Linked DNA regions of Homo sapiens: region 1 is linked to region 2. The links come from fine-mapping of genetic effects on gene expression. A gene starts in region 2. The other region holds a variant in brackets. All regions are shown on one strand. Distances are between the middles of the regions.

Region 1 (11,706 bases), 34 kb before region 2:
TCTTGTGTGATGGAGTAGGTAACAATGTGTTCCGTCAAGCTTCAGCAGAGATTTCAGCAGCAAATGTCAGGGATAAGAGGTAGATGATATAGATATAGAGATATAAATATTAATCATAAGGATTATATATCCTACAGGGAATGATATATATCTAAGGGTGTATCACAGCCTGCGTGTTCACAGCCTAGCCTGCCAGCAGCCCCCAGAAGAAACTGCGGGAATTCAGCGTGAACATGATACAATCAGCAGGTAACTCTTGAGCGACGGGTTCTTACGTTTTTGGTAATTGAAACACCTAAAGATATCTTTGCCTTAAGGCCTGAGTCTCAGAAAGATGACTTCGTGTGAGGGTGAGTGAGGGGTTGAAACTGCCTGCAGAGAGGCAGGTAGCAAGTTCCAAGAGGGGTCCTGGTGGGCGTTTCTGCCCAGGACGGCAGTGGTGAGGATACAGACAGTGCGTGCCTGCAACGATGCAACATTGTGGTGGGATCACAGCATTGTGTGGGTGTTGAATTCTTTAACTTCGGTGCTGAACTAGAGTGAATGAGGAGTAGAACATGAATAGAAAGAACCTCAGTACTTGGCATCACGGTGACTGAAGGGAACTCAGCCAGAATTAAGATGAAGGAGATGGTTTGAGTCTGGGGGGATGGCTGCCAGGTGAAATTTGGGATGCCTCAGTTCACAATGTCAAAAAGGGGGTTAGAGGTCAGTGAGGAACTGACAACTGTAGATACAGCCTGAGGGATTCCGTCTGAATGCGATGGCGATGTTTGTGGGAACTACTGTGTCCATCCAGGGAAGCAAGGCTGTGCCTTGAGGGGGCACCTGTACTTGGGTAGTGGGAAGATGAAAGAAGGTCAAGGAGTGCAGAGGCTAGACACCTACGAAAGCTCCGTGTGGAAACACCTGAACAGAAGGGCATCAGATCCAGGGCATGAGGGGCAGGGCTGGGCAGTGTCCAGCTTTGCCATTGAGAAACCGTGTGTGTGTGCGTGTGTGTGTGTGTGTGTGTGTGTGCGTGTGCACGTGCATGCATGTGTGTGCACGTGTGTACGTAAGTGTGCACATGTACAGTGGACTATAATTACAAGAAAACCACTCCTCTCTAATCCCTGCCCCTTTCTATCCTGTGACCTTCCTCTCCCTCATCTCCCCTTCCCAGGAACTTCTTTTGTCTCAGTCGTTTACGCGACTGCCCTTGCTGCTCCCCATGTCACCAGCTGCTCTTTTTTTAAAGCAAAGTTCTGGAGAGAATAGTAGTGAAGAGCAGGAGTTTGGCTTTCAGTCCTGGCTTTACCATTTGCTGCCGTGTAACTAAGGTAGACCAGCTGTCCTCCCGAGTCGCTCAGTCAATTAGGGGTGAAAACATGGACCTTGCTGAGATATTAAGGCAACATCAAGTTATTATTACAGTACCTGGCTCACAGTGAGTGGTAAATAACTTGTCTTTATTATAAATTGCCGCATACATTTACCCCTCTATCTTTCTTGCTTCCTTCATTCTCTCATTTCTTTCTTCACTATCCCTACAACTTCTCCCTTTTCTCCCAGTTTAGGCTCTGAAAAGAAACTCTGGAATCAGAAATCTCAGAAAGAGAAATGTCATAATTCCTTTACTTCTTAATAATTAGACTTAAAAATGTGCTAGCTTGACTTTGCTCGGCCACAGCTCACTGTTTTGACAGGCATCTTGAGCTCGTTAGAGATAAGATCACATTCTGTGAAGTTTATTTCATAAGTATTGTTGATAGAATCTGGGAGGAGATACGATAATTGAATGTTTCACAAGAATATTGGCAACTTTCTGACAAAACGTGTGTGGTTTTGAAACTAGAGAAGCAGGAGGGAAAAACTGAACTTATTCCTCCATTGAAACCCTGGAGTTTGAGTTGTTTTCCAGTAACAGTAGAGTTCTTCAGAACATCAACTGGGGCAGCAGGGAACACCTGTTGCAACATGTAAGCTGAGCAGATCTCCGTTAGTTTTACAGTCTATGCATAAGGTACCAAATCAAGAATAAAAATCCTTCATAAATTATCTGCTTACAGGATTTATTATGAATAATGATTAATTAATTATTGTTTATTAATAATATTTTTCAATCCTATCATGGAGCATAACATCCCCATCAGGAACTGGAAGGTGTGCAATGCTTGAGCGATTGTAGGAGGTGAGAAGCCAATGGTGCAGTCGAAAGGACCCACGAATCAGCAGGTGGCAACCCAGTTGCTTCCTAACAGCAATGGTTTCAGAAATCAAATTGGCTGTTTTCTATCACTGAGAGGTGACAGCTGCTCGGCAAAGAAATTGTGCAGGAAATTGGAATGTCACTCAAGCCATCAGATAAAACCTAGCCCTAGAGGGCAGTCTGATCTTTCCGTAGACAATTCCAGGGGCTACCTTTCTCACGCCAATCAAGAGCTTTCTCCCTGTGCTCAAAATTCCATGGTCTGGGGTCTCATTAACTACCATGACCTATTCAGGGGCTGAAGTAACGTATACCTTGGCTCTTCCACTCCAGAGACTCACAGGACCTAGAATTGTGCTGCTTTTACTGCCAGTGTGAGTGACAGGGCTGCCTGTGCGTGTGTGGTCATGACAGCGGAGATCAGCATGAATCCGGGAGCTGGATGCAAGCGTGAGCCAGTGACGGGGGGTGGTCCTATCAATACAGCCCCCAGCTGCTCACAAAGCCCTTCTGCTTGCTTTATGTCACCGCCTGCCTCCCTCCTACCACTACCTCCCAAAATGGGAAAGCCTAAGAAGGTGGACAATTCCTTGTCGATGTGGATGTAGAGAGAAATCAAACACTCTGACGGTGATGGGAGCTGCAGCACGCTTCGCTCTACCTGGAACATAATTGTCATTCGTGAGGTATTCTTCTCACATACTTAATGTCTCTATCGTCCCCAAGTCTTGGCAATTGAAGGAGGTATTTCTCCCCATTTTACAGATGCAGAAGTTCAGGAATATTAAATGGTTTAGTTGCGGCCACTGAGTAGGAAGGAGAGCAAAGACACAGAGGCTGCTACTGGGGCTCCTGGTTCTGACCCTTCCGCATCCCAGCGTCTCCACAGAGGTAAGGAGAATCAAACAGGCTATCACCTGGGAAAGGAAGAGTGGATGCAAGAGGGAGGAAAGTGATCAATTCCTCTTCTCAGGTATTATTCATTCCAATTTTCTCAATTTGCCACAAGTGCCAGAAAATGCCGCAACATGAAAAGTGACAACCATAGCTTCTTAGGGGACTCCCCTAAAGCCTTCATCCTTCTGGGTGTGTCTGACAGGCCGTGGCTGGAACTCCCTCTCTTTGTGGTCCTCCTGCTGTCCTATGTGCTGGCCATGTTGGGGAACGTCGCCATCATCCTGGCATCCCGGGTGGATCCTCAACTCCACAGCCCCATGTACATCTTCCTCAGTCACCTGTCCTTCCTGGACCTCTGCTACACCACCACGACAGTCCCTCAGATGCTGGTCAACATGGGCAGTTCCCAGAAGACCATCAGCTATGGAGGCTGCACTGTGCAATATGCAGTCTTCCACTGGCTGGGATGCACGGAGTGCATCGTCCTGGCCGCCATGGCCCTGGACCGCTACGTGGCCATCTGCAAGCCCCTGCACTATGCCGTTCTCATGCACCGTGCTCTCTGTCAGCAGCTCGTGGCTCTGGCCTGGCTCAGTGGCTTCGGCAACTCCTTCGTGCAGGTGGTCCTGACGGTGCAATTGCCATTCTGCGGGCGGCAGGTGCTGAACAACTTTTTCTGTGAGGTGCCGGCCGTGATCAAGCTGTCGTGTGCTGACACCGCTGTGAATGACACCATACTGGCTGTGCTGGTGGCCTTCTTCGTGTTGGTGCCCCTGGCTCTCATCCTTCTCTCCTATGGCTTTATTGCCCGGGCAGTGCTCAGGATCCAGTCCTCCAAGGGACGACACAAGGCCTTTGGGACGTGTTCCTCCCACCTGATGATCGTCTCCCTCTTCTACCTACCTGCGATTTACATGTATCTGCAGCCCCCTTCCAGCTACTCCCAAGAGCAGGGCAAATTTATTTCTCTCTTCTATTCCATAATCACCCCCACTCTCAATCCCTTCACCTACACCCTGAGAAATAAAGATATGAAGGGGGCTCTGAGGAGACTTCTGGCCAGGATCTGGAGGCTCTGTGGATGATGAGGACATGAGATGTAGCATCTCCATCAATTAAAGAACACAGCACAAGTCTATTGTGCACTCAGAGCATCTTTCACTTAAGGAGTTAATACCCAGAGAGCTCAAAAACCCTGTCTTCAAACATCTCACTTCCTGTTATAATGCCCCAAATCCCATAGCGACAAAGTTCATTTTAAACGTATAATTCTAAGAGGCCATATATTTTTAAGCATTGTTTAAATAGACTTCAATAAGTATGTGTGGAATTATTTCACTTCCAATTTCCTGATTCTTTTCTCTTTTCCTCTTCCTATATTTCTTTTATTCTCTCCCCATTTGTCTCTTTTCTATTACTCCTAAGTATACACAAGATGAAGCTGAAATACAATCTTATTTTACTTACAATGAATAAGTGTTTTTCTCCATATACTTAAATCTCCACAAATTTTACACGACTTTTTCAGACAATTCCAGGAATGAAGTAGATTGCTATCTTCTTCCTGTGATTTTGATTTTTTTTTCTCTGTAGTTCACATTTTCTTCTATAGAAAGTTTTTCCATGAAATGTAAACTAGTACAAACACTAGTACAACCACGATGGAAAACATTGTGGATCCTTAAAGAACAAAAAGTAGATCTACCATTTGATCCAGCAATCCCACTACGGGGCATCTACCCAGAGGAAAATAAGTCATTATACGAAAAAGATACTTGCTCATGCGTGTTTATAGCAGCACAATTTGCAATTGGAAAAATATGGAACCATCTGGGCGCAGTGGCTCATGCCTGTAATCCCAGCACTTTGGGAGGCCGAGGCGGGTGAATCACAAGGTCAGGAGTTCAAGACCAGCCTGGCCAAGATGGTGAAACCCCATCTCTACTAAAAATACAAAAATTAGCTGGGCATGGTGGCACACGCCTGTAATCCCAGCTACTCAGGAGGCTGAGGCAGAGAATTGCTTGAACCCGGGAGGCGGAGGTTGCAGTGAGCCGAGATCGCGCCTCTGCACTCCAGACTGGGCGACAGAGCAAGACTCCATCTCAAAAAAAAAAGAAAAAGAAAATGTGAGATATATACCATGGAAAAATACTATTCAGCCATAAAAAGGAATGAAATAATGGCATTCTCAGCAACCTGGCCAGTTTTAATGTCCTAATGCCCAAAGGTTCTCTTTCTCTCTTTCAAGCTCAGCTATGTGTTTCTGATTACATTATTTATATAGGTTATCAAAGTGTTTGTAGCAGGAAGGCAGTCGGTAATAGTTCACCAAGATGCAGAAACCCAGTCTCCAGTTGGTGCTGCTCAGAAGTGCTAACAAGACAGAGTTTGCAACAGAATGTAAATCTCATACTGTTTCCCTTATAAAAATAGTCTTCAGGGTTTTTTTTAAATGTCAGCTCATCTAAAAGGTATGTTTAATAATGTGATTGTTTTACATTCTTATACAAGCTCCTTATATCGACAGTTCATAGACTACACTTTGAGTAGCAAAGTGTGGCTACTTTGATGGCTAATTGTACAGAGGAAATAGTATTTCCATCCTGAGCAATTCCATGCGGTTTAAGAGTTGTCCATGTGTAGAGAAGCAATTAGTAAATATTTCCTTATAACTTAATGCTCTGTGAAGTATAATAGATGAACTGTTCCTCGGATGGGATAAATCCAAAATAAGCTGTTATCAACTGAAAGCAAGATGCATCTTCTACATAATACTTCTAGTTAGGAGCGCAGGCTCTGATACTCTCAAACCTTTCCCTCCACGATTTTCAATCTCCTATCCTATCAAAGATGAAATTCCACTCATTACAGTTAGAGTGAGGTAACGTTTTAAAAATTATCTACAATGGAATCATTTGCCAAAGTGACTTTTAAAATGCACCAAACAATTTAATTTATCTTTAGTGGTTTAGAGAAATAATTTGAAAAATTTCTAGGTACTCTTTTTTAAAATTAAGAAAAGGAATCAATTTAATTAAATACCAAAAAGTTTTACATATTCCTGAATTTTCAACCAGCTACAAAAAGCATGGATTTTTCTTATTAGAAAACAAAACTGTTACAAAAAATTTAAATAAATAAATAGCTGCCATAAAATTTCAACATAATATATAGTCAACTAGTTCTGTGTTATGGTCAGTTAATAGAAAGATAGCGGGAATGATGATATGAGCAAAAGTAAACAGAACAAAGAAGAAAAAAGATAGGAAAAAGAAAGTTAGACAGAGAAGAGAAAAATAAAGAAAGTGCTTTATTGAATGAGCTAATTACATGAGGTCACCAAGAGGAACATCCTCTAACTGAGGCGCTGTGATGA[C/G]AACAACACCCGATGCTGTCATTGTCCTGGTGTCTTCCTCACCCTGGCGTAAAGGAGATGCCCAAGCTCTGCACAGGAAGGCATCGTCGGCAAGCTCTCTTCTCCGACACTCCACCGGAAGGATCACAGAGCTGTGGTCTTGGCCTGGATGGATCGCAGCTCTCTCCACCTGAGGGCCCCCAGCTGGAGGGACCGGAGAACACTGGCGTCTGGCAGCCCCGTTTCCACTCCTACCAAGAAGGCTCAAAGACGACGGTCAGCTCAGGCTTTTCTTCTTGAAGTGTTTCTAACGCACTTTTTGTCTCATAATTGAAATACATTTCAGACAACCTGTAAAAGCAAATAGAAAGCCTGGGTTGCACTCTTCAGATAACTCTGTCAGAGTCGTTAACCTTAAAAGTCTCATCTCTTCATTTCCCTAAACTCCACACACTTCTAAAATGTAAAAAAAAAAAAAAAAAAAAAAGAGGGACCACAACTCCCAGAGTGCTCCGCGTCCTCGCCGCCGTCGCCGCCGCCGAGACCAAGATGGCCGCGAGACTCCGCACCTTCTTCAAGAATGCCTGGGCCAAGGAGCCGGTGCTCGTCGTGTCCTTCGTCACTGGGAGCCTCAGACCCCCAGGACCCCAGCCTGGAGTGGCTGAAGAAACTGTGAGCACCTCCAATGACAGAGGAGGCCCCTCCCACGGCTCCCAATAAAAATGTGGGGAAAAAAAAAAAAAAGCTCTAAGTGCCCAATGTGGTTCCTGTTATATTTTTAACTATCTAGTTGGGAAAATGTTAAGCATACATAAAAGTATAGAAAATAGTATAATGAACCCCCTGTGTCCATTACCCAAGTTCGACAATTAAACAGGTCATGTCAACTTGTTTCTTCTATTGCCCACCCACTCCTCCCACCCATGGATTATTTTAAATACTGCATTTAATGCATCTATCAATAATTCACTTTGTGACACTAAAATATAATTACAATGTCACTATCACACCAAAATCGTTTAACAATAATTTCTTAGTATCACTGTATGTCCAGTCAGCATTTACGCTTCCTCAACTGTCTTGTAAATTTTTTTACCTTATGTTCATTTAGTCACTAACCTGATCAATTCTACACATTGCATTTGCCCAGGATGCCTCTCACATCTTCGATGTAAGTTCTTCCTCCTCTTTAATAAAGTTTCCCTTGCAACTTAACTAATAAATCCACCCATTTGTCCTGCACCATTTATAACCATCTCAATTTGGTGGTGTTATATACTGAATGTTTGTCTTCCTTAACAATTCCCATGATGAAGCCCGAACCCCTAATGTACGGTACTTAAAGGTGAGGCCCTTGGGAAGTAGTTAGAGTTAGATGAAGTTGTGAGGGTGGGGCCCTCAGTATGGGGTGAGTGCCCTTACAGGAGAGATATCAGAGAGTTTGTTCTTTCTCCCCTGTCTTCTCTCCCTTGCCTCCCCTCCCTCCATGCAATCACATAACAAGAAGGTAGCCATCTGCAAATCAGGAAGAGGACTCTCGCCAGCAACCAAATTCATCAGAGACTTGATTTTGGACTTTCTAGCCTCCAGTATTGTGAGATAATAAATCTGTGTTTGAGTCACACAGTCTAAAGCAGCTTGTTATCGCAGCCTGAGAAAACGGGTTGATTGCATTCATGGATTCTTCAATCTATTTTGAGCCTGTCCCTCAGCCTGGGTCCAGAATGTCCCTCAGGGCTAGGTCAGTGATGCTACATGTAGCAGTGTCCCCAGCTTTGACCTGACCAATCCTTTGTTTGTTCCCCCATCTCTCTTAGCTCTGGGAATATTGGCTTGTCCTGCAGCAAATGTGCTCCATTATGTTGGCACAAGGATGCAAGGCTGATTCAAACTTGTATTTATTCAAACCTGCATTCCAACAAGTTCTCAGCCTTGAGATCATTAATATGGACAGAAGTCCCTGGACTAATGGAATTTATATTTTGGGAGCAGAGATAGATAATAAATAAACAAGAAAATGACATAGCACATAAGATGTGCTACACTGCAGAGGAGAATGAGAAGAGAAGAAAAAGTGCTTCTATTTTCAGTAGAATAGTCAAAGACAGCCTCGCAGAGAAGACCTTTAAGCAGAGAATTTAGGAAGGTACAGGGAATAATGCAGGTGGATACTGAAGGGGAGAGAGTTCTAGGCCAGAAGAAAAGCAAGTGCAAAAATCCAGAGATGACAGTGTTCTTGCAAAACAGCAAGGAGATCACTGTACTGGGGCAGAATAAGCAAGGGTTGGGAGAAGCGGAATCTTCGGAAGCAGGAGAGGCTGGATTATGTGGGGCATGGAAGCCACCATGAGTTTGTTGCTCTGATTATGAAAGTGATAAGAAGACGATGTTGACAAGAGTGATATGATGCGAGTTACGTTTTAGCTGAATCCCTTGTCTGCTAAAATCAGAATAACAGATGCAGGGTGACCTGTCAGAATGCCACCATGACAATCCAGACACCAGGTGATGGTGGCTTGAGCCAAGGAAGAAGCCGTGAAGCTGGCCTGAAGTGGTCAGGGAGTGGCCAAGCTGGGAAGGCAGAGCTCACAGGATGTGCTGACACATTGGACATGATTATAAGGAAAAAGAGACAGTGACGACAGAACCAGAAATGTTTTGGCCCGAGCAACTTGGAGGAAGTGACCATCGACTGAAATGGGGAAGAATCAGGTTTCGGGTAGAAGAGAGTAGCAAGGGTGTGGATCTAGATGTGACGTTTGAGAGGTTTATTAAACCTTCAAGAAGAAAGATCAGCCAAGCACGGAGACACAGAATTTATGGACATATAATCTGGAGGCCACAGCACACATATCATGAAGCCAGAAGACCAGATAATTTAAATGAGGGAGAAAGTGTAGGGAAGAAAAATTAGCCCAGCGACTAAGCTCTGAGGATTCAACACATAAGGGTCAGGATGATGAAGAAGAGGCCAGAAAGGAGACTGAGTAGAAGGATCTGATGAAATAGGAGAAAACCCAGGAGAGCATGTTGGCCTTAAAGCCAAGCAGTGAAAACGTCTTCAGGGAAAAGTGCAATCATCACGGCTGACAGAACCGTGGGACTCGCCAGGAAGCTCTTGCTAGAGAGGAGACGACTACCTCAGTAGTATCACAGAGGTGGGCTGGCAATATCCTGACACACTGTCGAATTTCGTGTAATTTCCCATCTTGCTATTCCTGGAGCACTCTTTTCCCATTTAGAAATCCTCAGAAACCGCCAGGCACGGAGGCTCACACCTGTAATCCCAGCACTTGGGGAGGCCGAGGCAGGCAGATCACGAGGTCAGGAGATGGAGACCATCCTGGCTAACACAGTGAAACCCCAACTCTACTAAAAATACAAAAAATTAGCCGGGTGTGGTGGCAGGCGCCTGTGGTCCCAGCTACTTGGGAGGCCGAGGCAGGAGAATGGCGTGAACCCGGGAGGCGGAGCTTGCAGTGAGCCGAGATCATGCCACTGCACTCCAGCCTGGGCGACAGAGCAAGACTCTGTCTCAAGGAAAAAAAAAATAAATCCTCAGAAACAAAACAACAAGATCCCCACTATGTAAAGACCCTTCCAATTTGGATGACCCATAGACGAGTTCTACGAAGTTCGGTTCCTTGTGTAGAACAGAATCCTCCTTGGCCATGATCGCATGAGGGCTTGTGTTTCTTTGGGGAATGTGGGTGAAATCCAGCTTAGCCTTGGTGATTCTAACCATCTCAGTGAAGTGGAATGTGTAGTTTAACCCCATATTCTCTATTTTAAAATATCCACCACAACTGACCCAGGCCCAACCTAATCTTGAGTGGCTGCAAATGAAGCGAGAGCCATCCTGGATTTTGATAACAGTCAACGTTTCCTGAGAACTCAGAGTCCCACCACGGGCATCTCTGCAGAGCACACTCACCCCAGGTTCTGCAGGAGGCAGCTCTGCTGTTTCAGCACTTCACAGAACATCATGACCCCCAGGTCGCCCAGGTCATTGTTGCCCAGGCTCAGCTTTCGCAGGCTCTGGCTGGAGGTCAGAAGTGTGGAAAGATCCCAGCAGCAGTGTGACGTGAGGTTGCAGTTGTCTAATCTGCAAAAAGGGGGTGATTTAAAGAAAATGTCCCCTTAACCATCCCCCTAGCTCCCCAAGATTTTAGCATCTTAGCCTGTCTTGTTTCAGGTGGAAAAAAAAAAAGCACAGGAGCACAGGACTAACTAGCTTCAAGCAGCCTTGTATGCTGGTAATTATTCTTCTCTCTCTTTTTCAAATCCACTGCATTGCACAGATCAAATTAGTAACAGTGGTTTGTTCATTGATTTACCAAATTCTGTGCCTTTCCCTACATTTCCATAAAATGTAAGTGTCATACTGCCCTCCTTGTTTTGTGGTACAGAAAACTGTGATGGTAAGGACTCAAGTTCCTACATCTATATCATCTGGAAGGACTCCTCCCAGTCCCATGATCCTGTAACAAGGCAAACACTAAGAAGACACCTCACTTCTAAGATACAGATTATCTTGTGGCCACTCTGCCTAAACGTCCCTCCACCCTTGGCCACCATGTGTTCTCATTGCTGTAATAAACCAAAGGACTTACTCCAACACCTGAAGCTTGCAGTCGGGGTGCAAGAGTCCCTCACAGAGTAGTTTGATCCCCTTGTCTCCGAGAGTGTTGCCTCGCAGGTAAAGGTGCGTGAGATTCTGATTAGTGCTGAGTACCGAGGACAAAGCTGAACAACAGACTGACGTAAGGCCAGAATTCACCAACCTGTAGAAGGACAGGGAGAAGAGTCCTCAGTACCCAGCTGTTCCCCAACATTGTGCAGCTGCTTTGACTCAGTGCCTCGTCCTCTCTCAGCAGCTGCAGCCTTCAGCTCAGAGAGCAGGAGCCAGCATCTCAGATATGATCTGGGGAGAGCAAGACCTGCTGTCTCTGGCTGTCACAGGAGACACAAATGATGTCTCAGCAGATGCTTTGCTGTATGAGTCCGACAGAAAGAGCCAAGGCAAACTGAGCCAGTTACCCCATACTCCTCCTCCTCCTCACACAGCTTTCCTCCGGCCAGGAGTGCTCCTCAGCACCACTTCTTCCAGAAACACATCCCAGTGGTTATCCTCAACTAATAATCCCCGTAACACTGCAGACACCCACACTGCAGGGGCCTTTTTTTTTTTTTTTAAGAGAGACAGGAAAAAAAAATCCTCCTCATGGGAAGTCGGTGCTGATTTAAACATCAAAGACAA
Region 2 (11,706 bases):
TCCCTATGTTGCTCAGGCTGGTTTTGAGCTCCTGGGCTCAAGCGATCCTCCTGCCTTAGCCTCCTGAGTAGCTGGGACTACAGGTGAGAGCCATTGCAGCAACTGGTTTCTGACCTCCCCCGGCTGCACACTGCTGTCTGTTTCCCCAGTGTCATTACACCCACACTGCTGCCCTGCCTTAACATGTGTCTCCCTATCCACTGACTCATTTGTACTCCTCCTTCCCATCACCACCAGCTCTACATCATCATCCTGCAATACCCTGCCCTTCTCTGAGCCCTACCTTTGCCTAGAACACAAGACAAAAGAAAGAACCTTATCCCCAATGTGTACATGGGGATTAAGAGAATTTCTTTTACATTCCAATTCCCAAAGTGGTGGTGAAAGGAAAGGCTTCTGCCCCAAACTCCACGGTTCTTCAAGGAGAGAGGCTGCCCTCTGGGCCATAGGAAGCAGAGGCCCAAGCCTGCTGACCACACAGCAGATACTGGACAAAACATGTGGTCTGAGAAGCTGGATGGAGAATTGGAGGCAGGTCTAGGCACTGCTGAGATTCAGATAAAGAGGGACTAATCATGGCAGGTGCCCAGGGGGTAGGTACAGTCTGCATCAGCTTTTTAAAGGAGTTAGAGAAAGCAAACAGTTTGCCTCCACCTTCTCATAGCACTACCGTGAGAGGGGAAAAGAGAAAAAACCAAGACAATACAAGAAAAAAAAATTTTTTTTTGAAACAGGGTCTTGCTCTTTAGCCCAGGCTGGAGTGCCGTGGTGCAATCTCAGCTCACTGCAACCTCCACTCCCCATGTTCAAGCAATTCTCCTACCTCAGCCTCCTGAGTAGCTGGGATTACAGGTGCCCACCACCACACCCGGCTAATTTTTTTTGTATTTTTAGTAGAGATGGGGTTTTGCCATGTTGGCCAGGCTGGTGTTGAACTCCTGACCTCAGGTGATCCACCCACCTCAGCCTCACAAAGTGCTGGAATTACAGGCATGAGCCACCATGCCCGGCCATGATTTAAAAAAAAAAAAATCATACTAACTTCTGTGCATCAAAGGACACAGTTAACCAAATGAAAAGACAACCCACAGAATAGGAGAAAATATTTGTAAATCATATATCTGATATGGGGTTAATATCTAGAATACATAAAGAACTCCTACAAGGCAACAACAAAAGCCAAACCTGGTCTGAAAATGAGAAAAGAACTTGAACAGAACTTTCTCTGAAGAAGCTCTATAAATGGCCAACAAGCAGTGAAAATGTGCTCAGCATCACTTATCATTAGGGAAACGGAAATCAAAACTACAGTGAGATACCACCTCACACTCATTAGAATGGCTACTATAAAAAAGAAAAAATAAATAAAAATAACGTGTTCTTAGGATATGGAGAAATTGGAACCCTTGTGTGCTGTTGGTGGGAAATGGTGCAGATGGTATCTAAAACAGTAGAGCAGTTCTTCAAAATATTTAACAGAATTACCGTATGATTCAGAAATTTCACTTCTGAGTATATACCCCAGAGAATTCAAAGCAGGGTCTTGAAGAGATATTTGTGCACCAACACTCATAACAGCATTAACAATAACAAAAAGGTAGAAGTAATCCAGGTGTTCATCAACAGATAACTAAACAAAATTTGGTATATGGTACCATGGAGTATTTATACAGTCTTTTTTAAAGGAAGGGAATTCCGACACATGCTACAACATAGTTGAACCCGGAGGACATTATGCTGAGTGAAATAAACTACTCATAAAGGAAAAAATGCTGTATGTTTCCACTTATATGAGGTACCCAGAGTAGTAAGATTCACAGAGATGGCAAATAGAATGGTGGTTACCAGGGCTGGGAGAATGAGGCAATGAGGAGTTATCATTCAATGGGTGAGGAGTTTCAGTTTTGCAAGATGAAAACAGTTCTGGAGACTGGTTGCACAATGTGAGTGTACCTAACACTACTGAACTGTACATTTAAAAATTATTACGGCCGGGCGCGGTGGCTCACACCTGTAATTCCAGCACTTTGCGAGGCCGAGGCGGGTGGATCACCTGAGGTCGGGAGTTTGAGACCAACCTGACCAACATGGAGAAACCCCATCTCTACTAAAAATACAAAATTAGCCGGGCGTGGAGGTGCAATGCCTGTAATCCCAGCTACTTGGGAGGCTGAGGCAGGAAAATCGCTTGAACCCGGGAGGTGGAGGTTGCAGTGAGCCAAGATCTCACCATTGCACTCCAGCCTGGGCAACAAGAGCAACTCCGTCTCAAAAAAAAATATATATATATATATATATAAAGATGGAAAATTGTACACTATGTGCACTTGGCCACAATTTTTTTTAAAAGTCTTCCTTCCACTCACCCCACTTCGGCTCATCTCTTTTTGCTTTCTCATAAAGGTCTCTCCTGTTGATCGCAGCGAAGATCCACACGGCCATGGCCCACGCCTTCTCCTCCCCATTGAAGTCGATCATTAGCGTGGCTAGATCCACATGGTCTGCCTTCTCTGTCTGACCCCTCGGGAGGGGGATGCAGCCCTTCTGGGGAGGATAGTCCTCTAAGTGCATCTTAAATTTCTTCAAGTCCACATCCTCCAGGTCCTCCAGGTACCTGGCCAGCTTGCAGCGGGTGCTTGCCATCTTCATCTGCAGCTGTTTTCAGGGTCCTTAGGCTTCGGTCCACACTAAGATACCAGGCAGTGAACACGGCACACGGATGAGTCTTTTTTAAAGTCTCCACTTTGAGAGATATAAATTATCAAAAACTCAGCAAACAGAAAGAAAAAAATGTCACATGACTGTAACAAGTCAAAATCTTTAATTTTGAAAAGTTAGCCAAGGCCGGGCACAGTGGCTCACGCCTGTAATCCCAGCACTTTGAGAGGCCAAGGCAGGCAGATCACCTGAGCTGAGGAATTCAAGACCAGCCTGGCCAACATGGCAAAACTGTGTCTCTACTAAAAGTACAAAAATGAGCCGGGTGTGGTGGCGGGCGCCTGTAATCCCAGCTACTCAGGAAGTTGAGGTAGGAGAATTGATTGAACCCGGGAAGTGGAGGCTGCAGTGAGCCAAGATCACGCCACTGCACTCCAGCCTAGGCGACACAGCAAGACTCCATCTCAAAAAAAAAAAAGTTAGCCAAATGCTTACCAGAAAGTTCTCCTGTTGGCTCGATCCAGGAGTGTGTCCTGAGCCATGGAAGAAAGGTTTCCCTATGGAGGGAAAAATATGCAAACAAATCCATAAACAGGATTGTATTACAGTTTACGGTGAACAACCACTTCACGATGCCATCTTGACCCATCAGCAAGAAAATTTTTGTCCCGTTGATTACGGGGCTATGACATTGGACAAACTCTTCACTATTCCTCAACTTCAGTTTCCTCATCTACAAAATGAGAAAGCAGAAGAGAATGTTTTCAGTTCCTCCAAACTGAAGGCTCTGGCTCTTTGCTTCTGTTTTTGTGAGGGAAGAGGGATGAGAGACAATAGAAGGAGAAGGCCAGGAGGTGAGTAAGTGTGTTGATAACAGAACAGGACGTGGCTAGGGAGAGAGGAGAGAGAACATAAAAGCTTGCAGAGGAGGGGACAGTCTTTGACTGCACTTCTATCAACCAGTGGATTGAAGTGAGATGAAGCTGGGAGTGCATAATGGAGAATAATAAAAACATACATCCCTGTAATCCCAGCACTTTGGGAGGCCGAGGTGGGCGGATCACCTGAGGTCAGGAGTTGGAGACCAGGCTCACCAAACAACAGGGAGAAATCCCGTCTCTACTAAAAATACAAAAATTAACCGGGCATGGTACCAGGCACCTGTAATCCCAGCTACTCGGGAGGCTGAGGCAGGAGAATCGCTTGAACCCAGGAGGCGGAGGTTGCGATGAGCCAAGATCACACCACTGCACTCCAGCCTGGGCAATAAGAGCAAAACTCCATCTCAAAAAATAAAATAGAATAAAATAAAATAAATAAAAACATACATCCTTTAATGTCTCCTTGCAAAATTCGCAATTGTTATCATTATAATTCACATTAATTTAGAGCTTTCCACAGGCTAGGCACTCACTGATGTTTTTCCCCATCTAACCTGCACAGAGCTCTATGAGGTGCACCTATTCCTAGCCCCATTTTATAGATGCATAAACTGAGTCTTAGGGGGACTAGGAAGCCTGCCGAGGGGTTTAGAACCAGGAAGGAACAGAGCCAGGATTTTGACCAGAGATATGAGACCATGTCTTCCATCACTTGTTTCAGTCAGACAAAGACAAAGACAACAAAATAGATGACTAAAAGACACACTTCCCCAGCATTTATCACAGGTGTATCACTGCAGCATTCACCAACATAGTCTTCCCAACTAGACTGTGAGTTCCACAAAAACTAGCAATCACCTGCTGTATCTTTAGATCTTCCATATCTCCTAGAGTCCGGATGGATGAACAAGTTGGCTTTGTTTGGAATTGTTCCCTCCTTGATCCCTTGATTATACTCTATTTGGCAAAGCACCTCAACCTAAAGCCATAAATAACACTCAAGGGAGGCAGAGAGCCTGGAAAACGGTGGAGCTCTCCAAATTGGAATTTCTGTGACTGCAGTTCAATGTCAAGATGCCTCAGACTCACTCATCTCTCCCGTCCCATCTCCATTCCTGCCTATCTACTCCTCGCCTCCTGAGCCCTGCAAACCCAGCCCTGTGCATCCTGAGGTGACTGCTCTCCAGACAGCCCTATTAGCTCCGCATACCCTCCCAGCTCCTGCCCATCCTGAGGTGACTGCTCTCCAGACAGCCCTATTAGCTCCGCATACCCTCCCAGCTCCTGCCCCATCAGTCCTTCCATCTGCATCAGGATTCTGCCTTTCTTCTGTGCTCCTTCCACCCTAACACCAGCACAAAAATCTGCTGCCCTTTGGTCTTTAAGGAGGTTTGTTTCCTTCTGTATATCCCATCCATCTTCTCCCCTGGGAGGGATACTGGGCAAATCTGCTGAAGTCGTGGGTGTAAACTATGGTTGCTGCCGCTGTCCTCCCCGCTTCCCCCCGCCACATACACACACACGAACTTGCACACGTAGAGCCCAAATAATGATAAAAGAACATTCCAGAAATGTTGTTGAAGCACAACCTTGGAGACGCCAGAAGAAATTCCTAGTGCATTAACCAGGACAAGTTCTGCCCTCTGAACACAATCTCCCCCACTGCTCTCCCGGTCCTGTCGCCCACACTGCCCCGCGGAGCTGGACTTACCCAGATGCCAGCCTCAGGAACAGCTAGAGAGGAAATGCAATGAATTTATAGCAGTCGCAGCCCCAGAAGGGGCAGGAAGGATGTGGTCTCCACTTACATCAGAGCAGAGGCAGAGAGACTAATGGTTAATCACATAGCTGGATTTTCCAAATGGGATCAACAGTGTTGTCAAAACCGTGTCTCGGTTCCATACTGGGGTTCACCTTGCTCTCCTCTGAGGCACCCCACAGAAGCAGGGTGGGAGGCCAGTATGAGATGGGGCTGGGGGTCAAATCGGCAGTGCTAAATGGATGTTGCCTCTGACACTGCCCGCTGCAACGGCTCCACTGAGAGTGAGGGAAGTGAAACTAAGGACATGCCATGCGAGTGAGTAAAGAATCCAGAGCATGACCTGACCCAGCCTTCAAACTCCAGAGTCCATGCCCTGTCCTCTCACAGCAAGATGGCTGGAAGGCAGTACAGGTTCTCTCCGACATGTTCTACTTTTAAAGCACAAATTTTACTCCCTGACTCATTGACTCACCTGTTCCACTAACACTCACGGAATGGCTGGTATGTGGCAGGCATGCACACAAAGCCTCAGCTTGAGTAGCTTGAGGAGAGACACACACAGACCTACTCTGCAGCTCATGAGACGGCCGCAGGACCACAGACCGGCAAAGGCACAAGTTCAACAGAGCTTGGTGGGTGAGAGGCACTCGCTCAGCCTCTGGGTGAGTGAAAAGGACGAGCACCCAGTTCAGTGGAGGGATGTCAGCAAATGACTGGGTCTGTCTGTGCCTCATACCTGTAAAAGGGTGACAATAATTGCCTGCTACTTCTTTAGATCTTCCAAATCTCCTAGACTCAGGATGGATGAACAAGTGGTTTTGCTTGGAATTGCCCCCTCCTTGATCCCTTCATTATACTGCATTTGACCAAGCACTACATCAACCCAAATAACGGTACCTATCCTAGAAGGCTGTCAGAAAACACTGAGTGAATGGCTAAACGTGAGGCCTTTAAAACAGAGCCTGGCACAGAGAAGCTAGAATAAGCAGTTGGTTCCGATGACTACCACCTTTCTACAGAACTGCAGAGAGAATGCTCTACAACATGAGAGAGGCATCTAGTCCTGCTTAGGGGCATGACAGCAGACCTGAGTCTCCATGAACCAGGTGAAAGGTGTCATTCGGGGCTGGAGCTGAGGCAGGAGCAGCAAAAACTTCAGGTGCTGAAGCTAGAGAGAAAGCAGACCAAATATGCTCCAAAAGAAAGGAGCTCAGCCTGGGTGCAGTGGCTCATGCCTGTAATCCCAGCACTTTGAGAGGCCAAGGCAGGCAGATCACAAGGTCAGGAGTTTGAGACCAGCCTGGCCAACATGACGAAACCCCATCTCTACTAAAAATATAAAAAAAAATAGCTGGGTGTGGTGGCGGGCACCTGTAATCCCAGCTACTCAGGAAGCTGAGGCAAGAGAATCACTTGAACCTGGGAGGTGGAGGCTGCAGTGAGCTGAGATTGTGCCACTGCACTCCAGCCTGGGTGACAAGAGCAAGACTCCATTTCAAAAAAAAAAAAAGGAGCTCATTGGCTGAACCTGGGATCTTTTTGTTTTTGTTTGTTTAGTCAAGTTAATTTAGGTATAATTCAGCCGGGCGCAGTGGCTCACGCCTGTAATCCCAGCTCTCAGGGAGGCAAGAGGCGGGAGGATAGCTTGAGCCCAGGAGTTCGAGACCTGCCTGGGCAATATAGTGAGACCCCATTCTCCAGAAAAAGGAAAAAAAAAAGACAAATTTAGGTATAATTCATATGCAGTAAAAATCCATGCCTTTATAAAAACAGACCCATAGACCAGTGGAACAGAAATAAACTCAAGTATATGCAGTCAACTAATTCTTTGACAAGGTCACCAAGAAGACACAATGGAGAAAGGACAATCTCTTCAATAAAGATGTTGGCTATAGAAGTGTGAAAAAAAAATCAAGAAAAATATAAGATTTTGAAAAATTAAGCTTTTGGTGAAACTGGATTTCCACACGCAAAAGAATAAAACTTGGCACACACAAAAACCAACTCAAAATGGATTAAAGATCTAAACATAAGATCTAAAACTGTAAAACTCCTAGAAGAAAATAGAGAAGAAGCCAGGCATGGTGGCTCATGCCTGTAATCCCAGCACTCTGGGAGGCTGAGGCAGGAGGATCACCTGAGGCCAGAAGTTCACAGTCAGCCTGGGCAACATAGTGAGACTTTGTGTCTACAAAATTAAAAAAAAAAAAATTAGCCAGGCATGGTGCTGTGCACCTGTAGCCCAGCTACTCAGGAGGCCGAGGCAAGAAGATCACTTGAGCCCAGGAATTTGAGGTTACAGTGAGCTATAATGACACTACTGCATTCCAGCCTGGGTAACAGAATGAGACCCAATCTCTAAACAGATAAAAAACTAAATATAAAAAATAGAAAACAGAGGAGAAAACTTCTTGATATTAGCCTTGGCATGGATATTTTTAATGTCTCAACAAAAGCAAAGGAACAAAAGTAAAGATAAATAAGTGGGAATACATCAAAGTAAAAAGCTCCTGTATAGCAAAAGAAACAATCAACAGAGTGAAAAGGTAGCCAACAAATTGGAAGAAAATAGTTTTAAGCCATATATCAGATAAGTAGTTAATATGCAAAATATGTAAGGAATTCACACAACTCAAAGCATAAAACAAATAATCTGATTTTTAAAATGAAGAAAGGAACTGAATAGACATTTCTCTAAAAAAGAAACAAAAATGGTCAACATGTATACAAAAAAGTGCTCAACATCACTAATCATCAGGGAAATGCAAACCAAACCCACAATGAGGTACCACCTCAAACCTGTTAGGATGGCTATTAGCAAAATGACAAGAGACAAACATTGGCTAGGGCGTGAAGAACAGGGAACCCTTGCACATTGCTGCTGGGAATGCAGATTGGTGCAGCCATTGCAGAAAACAATATGGAGGTTCCTAAAGAAATTAAAAATAGAACTACCGTATGACCCAGCAATCCTTCTTCTGAGTGTGTATCCAAAGGAAATAAAATCACCACCTCACAAAGACATCTGTGCACTCATGTTCATAGCAGCATTATTCACCATGGTCCAGATAGGCAAACAACCCAAGTGTCTATTGACAGATGAATAAATAAAGAGTTTGGGGCATATATACACAATACAATCTTAGTTAGTATTAAAAATTGAGACTCTGCTATTTGCCACAACATAGATGAACCCGGTGGACTTTACACAAAGCATAATAAGCCAGGCACAGAAAGACAAACACTACATGATCTCACTCATATGTGGAACCTTAAAAAAAAAAAAAAAAAAAGTTAGGCCAGGAGTGGTGCCTCACACCTGTAATCCCAGCACTTTGGGAGGCTGAGGTGAGTGGATCACTTGAGCCCAAGAGCTTGAGACCAGCCTGGGCAAGATAGTGAGGCTTCACCTCTACCAAAAAAATGAAAAAAAGAAAAGAAAGGAGGGAGGGAGGGAAGGAAGCCAGGTGCAGTGGTGTGCACATGTCACCCCAGCTACTTGAGAGGCTGGGAGGCTGAGGTGGGAGGATTGCTTGAGTCTGGGAGGTCGAGGCTGCAGTGAGCCGAGATCACACCACTGCACTCCAGCCTGAGTGACAGACCGAGATCCTGTCTCAAAAAAAAATAGTTGAATATATAGAAACAGAGAGTTACCGGGGTAGAGGAAATAAAATGACGGTCAAAGGGTACGAAATTTCGGTTATGTAGGATAAATAAGCCGAGAGATCTAACAAACAGTGTGGGAACGATAGTTAAAAATATTATAAACCTGAAATTTGCTAAGAGAGATTTTAGATGTTTTTACCACCCACAAGAAAGATTATTATGTGAGATGGTGGCTATGTTAACTCATGTTAATTTGCTTGACTGCAGCAATCATTTCACTATGTATATCAAACTGCCATGTTATACACCTGAAATATGTACAATAAAATAAATATTCGCACCTTTTTCATGCACAGGCCTGTGAGTGCTCACAAGCATATAGCTACCCACCACCACAGCCCACACAGAGCACCTGCATCAGCTGCACATGCTCCCTGTGCAGCCTCTGTCCCCACCCACTGTGCTGCCACATAGTCAGCCTCTGTCCCCACCCGCAGCCCCACTTCTTCCACCTGCTAAAGCATTACCTTTTCCAGAGCATCACATAAACAGTGTGCAGCCTTTGGTGAGCGAGTCCGCTCACTTCATATGATGCCTGTGAGATTCAGATCAGTAGCTTATTCCTTTTTACTGCAGTTAAGTATTTCATGGGTTGGATAGGCCACAATTTGGTTTTCTATTCCCTAGGCAAAGGACAGTTGGGCTGTTTCCGTTTTTGGCAATCGTCAATTATGCCACTGTCACTCATGCAGCTGGCGAACTGGCTGCAATTGTGTAAGGACATCAGTCACTTGGGGCAGTGGGAAGTTCACGAGAAGCAGATGAGGTTTCCAGCCTTCGCTGCTTCACTCTCCGCTGAATGCTGCGACCACTCCTGTGGTCCGACTCCTTGCCTGCGACCCTCACCTCAGCTTTCCTGTGAGGCTCAAATAAAACAAGACCTGATCTATAATACATTATTGTAGAGAGGAAAAAATAAATAAAATAATACCTGACAGCAAAATGTAAACTGTACAGTAGTATTCAAATTGTAGGTCAGGCCAGTTTCAGTGGCTCACACCTGTAATCCCAACGCTTTGGGAGGTTTGAGGCAGGAGGATCACTTGAAGCCAGGAGGCCAAGAGCAGCCTGGGCAACATAGTGAGACCCCATCTCCACAAAAAATTAAAAAATAGACGGATGTGGTGGTGCATGCCTGTAGTACCAGCTACTCAGGACGCTGAGGTGGGAGGATCGCTTGAGCCCAGGAAATTGAGGCTGCAGTGAGCTAGGACTGTGCCACTGCACTCCAGCCTGGGTGACAGAGTGAGACCCTATATTAAAAAAATGCAGATTATGAATCTTGAAAAGATACTCTAATCATACATAAAAACTTGTCAATGAAAGACCACCATACTCTGTGTGTTATTATGCATTCTGAAAAAATTTTGTTTCAGATTTGGGAATATCAAAATCAACACAAATAAATAAGTCAACTCACAAAAGTAAAACGCGGTGATTTTCCATACATCATTCATGCAAAAAAAAATAATAATAATTTACTCTTGTACATTTAAGAAAAATAATTGCTTCCATTAAATACCCAAAGCTCACTTAAGTGGACTGGAACTCACAGCACTGAATTCCAAACTAAAATTGCATGAATGATTTCAAGTTGAAATCACCTGTGGTCCCCAGCTACTGGGGAGGCTGAGGTGGGAGGATCTTCTGAACCCAGGAAGTCAAGGCTTGCAGTGAACTGAGATTGTGTCACTGCACTTCAGCCTGGGTGACAGAGCCAAATCCTGTCTCCAAATAAATAAATAAATAAAAATACGCAAATAAATAAAAATTTAAAAAGAACTTAATCCCCCAATACAATAGTATTCAGGGGTGTGGTGTTTGTGGGGTGATTGAGTTTGTGGGGTGATGAATGGGATTCACACACTTGTAAAAGGGCTCCGGGTTCAAGGGGGTGCTCTCTCTTGCCTATCTGCCATGGGCCATGTGAGGACATGGCAACAAGGCACCATCTTGGAAGCAGAGAGCACTTCTCACCGGGCACCAAGGCCAGCGCCTTGATCCTGGACCTCACGGCCTCCAGAGCTCTAAGAAATAAATTTCTGCTCCTTAGAAATTACCCAGTCTCAGGTGTTTTGTTAGTACAAACGGACTAAGACACAAGCCCAAGTGGGATGATCTCAGGGGTGCTCAGCAAAGGCAGAGATCAGCCCAGAAGCCAGACATCCTCCCCTACTAGAGAGAACAGAAGAGATCGGAGGTGGGGAGTGCCAAAGTATCTGAGGTTACCAAGAAACAGACTGCATTTCAAACTGAAAGTGACTGGCTGATATTAAAAATGGCAATTTCACTTTCTCTCACCAGAAAAAATGTGACTAGCAGGAAGGGAAAAGGTATGAACAAAGACAAATTGGGTTTCAGAAAGTACAGTCATAACATTAGCGAGACTTTGTGAGTTCTTGTGAGGAGACGTGACCTTCCGTTGCTGCTGCTGCTCTTCCCTCTTTCCAGGGGTGACTGCTCCTCTGGGGCCTGGAGTGCTGGCGCTGAGTCAGCTTCCCCAGCTGAGGTGGGTTTTCCTAATGTGTCTATGACCCAAGAGTCCCAGGGGCCCCCGATTCCTCGACCTCTACACTTTCTGAGACACAGACTAAAAAGTGGATGGCCATCAAGAAAAAAGCTGTCAGTTCTTACTTTACGAAAGCCAAGTCCTTCATATAAGCATGCTATGTAATATGTTGGAATTGGCTTCTTCATCCCATTTATCTTCTCCTTTTCCTGTGTTCATAATCTGATCTC

What was found.
Region 1: its variant is fine-mapped to the expression of NLRP3 in whole blood (TOPMed, PIP above 0.99).

Annotation. Positions count from the first base shown.
Region 1 is chr1:247,443,496-247,455,201 of GRCh38, reverse strand. NLRP3 (NLR family pyrin domain containing 3) reads right to left here. Exons shown (of 10, transcript NM_001243133.2): 8 at 11,060-11,230; 9 at 10,381-10,551; 10 at 6,385-6,797. The coding sequence ends at 6,698. OR2B11 (olfactory receptor family 2 subfamily B member 11) reads left to right here. Exons shown (of 2, transcript NM_001004492.2): 2 at 138-6,020. The coding sequence starts at 3,220. The coding sequence ends at 4,173. It overlaps LOC124904575 (a long non-coding RNA gene), which reads left to right and starts at 6,975. Exons shown (of 2, transcript XR_007067005.1): 1 at 6,975-7,118. The variant C/G (reference allele first, on the strand shown) is at 6,468.
Region 2 is chr1:247,409,738-247,421,443 of GRCh38, reverse strand. NLRP3 (NLR family pyrin domain containing 3) reads right to left here and starts at 5,271. Exons shown (of 10, transcript NM_001243133.2): 1 at 5,251-5,271; 2 at 2,367-3,391. The coding sequence starts at 2,643. RefSeq lists enhancers at 10,868-10,927, 11,038-11,087.